2 separate regions of the Homo sapiens genome follow, and region 2 is reported to be linked to region 1. The links are microRNA targets in miRTarBase. Many come from high-throughput screens and were not tested one by one. Region 1 holds a microRNA gene; the other region holds the end of a gene's coding sequence.

What was found. The annotated mature microRNA hsa-miR-4269 reads GCAGGCACAGACAGCCCUGGC and lies in region 1 at 1,822-1,842, shown strand. An mRNA with a match to its seed (bases 2 to 7 or 8) in the 3' UTR can be bound and repressed. Matches are read on the target gene's strand: a 7mer-m8 pairs with bases 2 to 8, a 7mer-A1 pairs with bases 2 to 7 and ends in A, and an 8mer does both.
Region 2: miRTarBase lists QNG1 as a target of hsa-miR-4269. Seed matches in the 3' UTR shown: 7mer-m8 at 2,545-2,551.

Annotation. Positions count from the first base shown.
Region 1 is chr2:239,303,651-239,306,757 of GRCh38, forward strand. It overlaps MIR4269 (microRNA 4269), which reads left to right and starts at 1,812; the gene lies at 1,812-1,895. The region is part of intron 2 of HDAC4 (histone deacetylase 4); the gene reads right to left.
Region 2 is chr9:83,936,670-83,939,746 of GRCh38, forward strand. QNG1 (Q-nucleotide N-glycosylase 1) reads right to left here. Exons shown (of 4, transcript NM_032307.5): 4 at 1,642-3,074. The coding sequence ends at 2,842. Among named protein-coding and RNA genes, the nearest start is that of KIF27, 17 kb to the left of the region's middle.

The DNA.
Region 1 (3,107 bases):
AGTAAAAAATTCAAGTCAGCCCTGATGCTGTCCATGTTTTTTGTAAAACTTGCTCACTTGTAAACAACGTCGGGCAGCAACTGCAGGCCTCACCCCTCACTCTTCAAAAGCGACTGCGACAGCTGCATCCCCCGTGCTCAACTGCAGGGCGCGGCACTCGCCTATGCTCTCATGAAGCCCCGTGCCAAGGGCTTCTCCGGGACCCCAGATACCCACCAGACCCTACAGGCCTGCCCCGTGGCCCTGGGAATGCTTGGCACCAAGGTCCCACTTCCCACCTCAGTCAAGCACCTGCCTCCCAGGCCTCACCAGTCTTCATCTCAGCCCGCCAGGTCCTCTCGAGCCCCTGGAGTGCCCTGTGAGCCACAGCTTATAAAGCAGATAGGACCAGCTCTGCATCAGACCCCTGTGTGCAGGCCCAGCTCCCCGACCCGTAAGCAGTTGACCTCAGACCAGCTGCTTAACCTCTCTGAGTCAGCTTTCTTACCTATAAATGAGGATAAAAGCAGGATATTCACAAAGCCCAGAGCTAGAATGCCTCAAGCAGTGTGAGCTCGGGGAAGAAGTCCACACAGGACACAAAGCCCAGAGCTGGGAAGGCCTCAAGCAGTGTGAGCTCGGGGGAAGGAGTCCACACAGGAGCAGTACCTGTTGCAATATTTTTATTACATGCTGGGAAGATTAAATGAGATAAGCCGTGTAAACACCAGGCACATAGAAAGCATGAAATGATACCAGGTGGTGGCATGGTGTTACTTTCATTATTAATAATTTGAAAAAGCAGATTAACAGCTCAGGCCCTGCTGAACTCAGAGCCCCCATGAGGATAGAGGCTATAACGTAACAGACATGAAACGTCCTGAAAGCTCCACGTGCAAAGTGAGTTGCTTATGCCTGCGTAAACTTCTTGTTCTTCAAAAGATATGCTGTTTTTAAAAGGGACTGACTGGTGAAAAAACCTCACACACAAGGCAGTGCCCCTTTGCCAGGTCCTGTAAACACTACCGTGTCCTGCCCTCGGCTCCTGGGGTCAGGAGCTCTCAACGAAGGTGTGACCCTTGTGCCCAGCGTGCAGACTCCAGGGGTAACTGCTTGCTTCTGAATCTCCTTAATGGAGCTTAGGAATGACACGCTATGGACGCTGACTGTCCAAGCAGAAACAAGGCCCCCTTGGGGGCTTTCTAAAGTTAGTAAATACATGTATATATAATATATATACACACACATAGGAGAACGCGAATGACTGGGCACCCAGGGTCTCTGTGGGGAGCCACATGGCCCAGCAGAGAACACAGTTAGCATCACAGAGTCCAGCCGTCCCCTCCCCACGTCAATAGGACAGTCCCGCGCTTTCTTCCAGCCGGCCTGGGGCATGTCAGGAGGCAGGGCCTGTACTGCAGGCTCTGTGTTCTTAGACAGCCTTTGCAGGGGGCAGAGGTGCCCACTGCCACATGGGCACACACAGGAGGCTCACCACGTTTCTTCAAATGCAGATGACAAAGCAGCTTGAGTAACACAAATACGGCCACACTCATCTGAGGATTGCTGCTGTGTTTTCTAACTGCATGGCCATGACCAAGCAGTCGGTTTTCATCCAGGTTGGTAGTCAGGTTTCTGAAAGCGATGGCAGTCGCCTCAGGGCTGACACGGGGAGTCTGCTTGGCACACCTTCACCCTCGTTACATTTTCTGGACAATGGTAGGGAACATTCCTTACTCCGCTGGCCTGTCAGCTTGGCTAAGCCTGGTGCAAGTGGCTCGCTGTGGGTCCGCGGCTCCATTACGGGGGAGTCTGGGTCATCTGTGAGCCCAACAGCGCCCTGCAGGCACAGACAGCCCTGGCTTCTGCCTCTTTCTTTGTGGAAGCCACTCTGTCAGGCCTGGGATGGAGGGGCAAGAGGCTTTCAAATTTTTCCTTATTGTTGTATATTTTTTAAAAAACTATTTATTTTAATGGTGAAATAAGTTCTAAAAGTTTCTGGACTTGTAGGTAAATGAATAAGAACTGAGTGTGGTTTTTAATCATGTTCACATTATTGGTGACGGTGCGGCTTAGTTTCATTTAGTGACTAAATTCTAGCCATCCCTAGACTGATGGCCACGAAACGTGTATTTCGAGTTGAAATACATTTATTTAACACACATGCACACACAATTACACGTGCACACAGGAAGCTTTAGCAAGTACTTCTCTGACCCCATTCCCTAAACACGACTGGGAACGAGGCTGCCGCTGCCCACACGGGCCCTGAATCTGACAGCATTCAAGGAGACCACGGAGGAACCGTGACAAAGAGCTGGTAGCCACCGGCATTTCAGATGAATGCAGCACCCTGGGCAAGCACAGTGTCTGCGTCTCCCCCACGCTGAAATGATTCCTAGTGTCCTAGACTGCCTGGCTTCACATGAGAAACACTCTGCTTAAGTAACTACTTCATCACTCAAGGTCCCAAAGAATGCTGCCCACCTCGGTCAGCCTTGCTTCTAGAAACCGAGGATTCTGGGTTTGGAGGCACCCCAGCTCTTCCCTGGGAAGTCATTTTCCTGAATAGATCTGACTTCCACTTATTTTCCTATCATTTCCCATCTTTTCATACATTTAGAAGGCAAAAAAAGTTCATCTTTCTAGTGATTCCAGGAGCTCCCTGGCCCATCCACAGGTGGGTGAGCTCCCACCCAGGTCCAGCAAGTCAGTGACTACAACAGAGGACACAGCCTTCCAGTGGACACGAGGACCTCAGAGGCCACCTGGCCAGGCCCCATCCACGGATGTGTCCCTGCCCAGGTGCCAGCAAGGACTGACTAATACCTGACCCAGGGCCAAGCTATCCTGTGTCCCATACTCGGCCCGTAGAGCCATCAAATCATCTGGGCCCCGACACACTTGTTTCGTACCTTTCCCGGTCATGATACAAAACATAAGCTGGAAAGGGTGCTCTTCACCTAAACAAGGTCAAACACAGGCACTACATCAGGCACCCCATGTTCCCCCTATATGCCCCCCACACTGCCCAGGTGATGGCAGAACCCAGGTCCTCGGGCGCAGAGCATCCAGGGCCCAGGGCCCACAGGGTTTTACATGGTGAAAAGGGGTAGGGGGTGAATGCT
Region 2 (3,077 bases), not on the chromosome of region 1:
CTGGTATCCAATGCCCATAATACATGCCACTTTCCTAGCCTTCTTGGCAGTTAGTTGTGGTCACGTGACTAAATTCTAGTAAGATGAAACCAAAATGGAATGTGGTGGCTACTAGAGCCTTTCTTGTCAACTCTTTTTGTTTCTTCCTTATTTTTTTTTAAGAGACTGGATCTCGCTACATTGCCCAGGCTGGACATGAACTCCTACGTTCAAGGGATCCTCCTACCTCAGTTCCTCCCCACCACACAGTGGCTGGGACCATAGGAGCGAGCCACTGCACCTGGCTTCAACCCTTTCTTTCTACTCTTCTTTATTGCTTCAATCCTGCTGGCTAGATTAGAATGCAGGCATCCAGGATTGATTCCAGGTTATGCTCAGTGGCAGAAGAGAAAAGGCAGCTGGGTCTGGGAAACCATGGCTCACAGCTGTAAACGCGGTGCTTTGGAAGGCCAGTGGCAGGAGGACTGCTTGAGCCTAGGAGTTCGAGACCAACCTGAGCAACATAGTGAGACCCCATCTCTACAAAAAATTTAAATTAGCCAGATATAGTGGCATGCGCCTGTGGTCCCAGCACTTTGGGAGGATTGCTTGAGCCCAGGAGTTCAAGGTTACAATGAGCTATGATCTCACGACTGTGCTCCAGCCTGGGTGACAGTGAGACCATCTCTAAAAAAATAAAAAATAAAAAATAAAAAAAAAGAGAGTGGAGAAGGAGAAGAAAAAGAGGGGGGAGGGGAAAGAAGGGAAGAAGAAGGAGGAGGGCAGAGAAGCAAAGGGGAGGAGAAGAGGGAAAGGGGGAAGGGAAGACAGGAAGTGCCAGAAGGGTGGCAGGAGCAGAGGCCCAGAGATTACACTGGAAACTGTTATGATGCTTTCTGGTACAAGTTACAGAAAACTAATTCAAGATGCTGGAAATAATAAGGTAATGTGTTTATTATCTCAAGTATGAAGTCCATGGATAGGATGGGCTCAGGCATGGAAAGTATAGCTGGGCTCTAGCTCCACAAAATGGCTACCTGCATGATAGCAGGTATCATGCTAAAAGCATTGCTCAGAGGAAGAAAAGGGAACTTTGTCCTATATCTCTTTCTTAAAAGTGAAGAATCCTTTTCTAGAAGCTTCCCAGCAGACTTGTCATCCAGTGTCACTGTCCAGAACTAGATTATATACCCATTATCAAAGCAATCACAGGCAAGGAGAGTAAAGTGACCAGGAATAGTAAACCATTCATACAAGATCTACCTCCAGAACTGGGGATGGGATCACCATCCCCTGAGTCATACAGGACAGGGATAGACACAGGACCACTCCTATGGTTGTGCAAGTTGTGTAGTGCACAACTCCAGGAGGCCTCACTCACAGTCATTTGTAAGGTTATTATGACAAATTTCCAGCAGATGGCAGTAAAGTGCTTGGGAAAAGGGCATCTTTTTCTGACTTTTCTGAAGTCACAGCAAGCAGACAAGGTAGATACCTAACAAAATCAAGATTCTGTTAGAAGGAATGTGGCGGGGGTGGTGGGAAATGAGTACTTGACAGGTAATGAGAGTTCTGCAGCAGAAGGTAAATAATCTAACTTACAGTAAACCTTTTAAAATTATATATAGTAAATTCTATTTTAATGAAATAATCCATTCCAGGTTTAAGAAAAATTTTGAATATTTTTATTGAATTCCAATATAGTTACTCTGAAAAAACAAATTAGACAGATATCCTAAATTGAAAATCATGATGTACAAAACCCACTGTCATTACCAATAAAAAGTTTAAAATAAAGTGTCAAGATTGATTTTTACAAGAACAGCATTCATATATCAAAAACCTCTCTCTTTTTTATACCAAATGATTAAGGTATACTGAAAATTACACACCTCAAGAAAATATATCAGTAGATGAAATATTATCACTGAAGATTAGTCACATAAGGCATGATTAGTTTTGGGAAATTTAAATAAAATATTAAAGTTCCTTCACGATTTCCGTCAACTACATGTCCACAGGGGGGAAAAAAAAAAAACATAAGTCAAAACTAAACAGGCAGACAAATGATAAAGTTGGGAATACATAGCGATGTCAGGAATTTTTTTTTTTTGAGACAAGGTCTCCATCTGTTGCCCAGGATAGAATGCAGTGGCGTGACTGTGGCTCACTGCAGCCTCAAACCCCTGGGCTCAAGCAATCCACCCTCCTCAGCCTCAGCCTACCGCGTATTTGGGATTACAGAGCGTGCCACCATGCTAGGCTAATTTTTAAATTTTTGTAGAGATGGGGGTCTCCCTATGTTGCCTAGGCTGGTCTTGAACTCCTCGCCTCAAGCAATCCTCCTGCCTTGGCCTCCCAAAGTGCTAAGATTATACATATGAGCCACCACATCTGGCCTAGGAAGTTTTGTTGTTGTTGTTGTTGTTGTTGTTGTTTTTTGAGACAAAGTTTCACTCTTGTTGCTGAGGCTGGAGTGCAATGGCCTAATCTCGCCTCACTGCAACCTCCACCTTCTGAGTTCAAGCGATTCTCTTGCCTCAGCCTCCCAAGTAACTGGGATTACAGGCACGTGCCACCACGCCCAGCTAATTTTGTATTTTTAGTAGAGATGGGGTTTCACCATGTTGGCCAGGTGGTCTCAAACTCCTGACCTCAGATGATCCACCCGCCTCAGCCTCCCACAGTGCTGGGATTACAGGCATAAACCACTGTGCCCGGCCTAGGAAGTATTTTTCAAGTGAGAATGGGCAATCAATTTCCTATAACCTCGATCATGTTCTCTAAATATCAAAGCAAAACTGTACAGATGATATGATATAAAACGCAGGGGGTTTTCTTTGGATCAGTTTACACTTGAGGTCAATAATATATGCAACGTATGCGATGAAACGGAATTCCTTTCATATCTTCCCTATGGTCATGGGCATAGTCCCATAAGTAATAATCCAGAAGAATGGAATTGATCTCTCCATTAGGTTTTTCACCCTTTTGTTCAATAAGCTCCAGAAGACAATCCCGGATCAGCTCAACACACCAAAGCGAGCACCCTCTGATTTCCACCTCTTGCCTGTCTCCATATGAGAGCATTTCTCCTG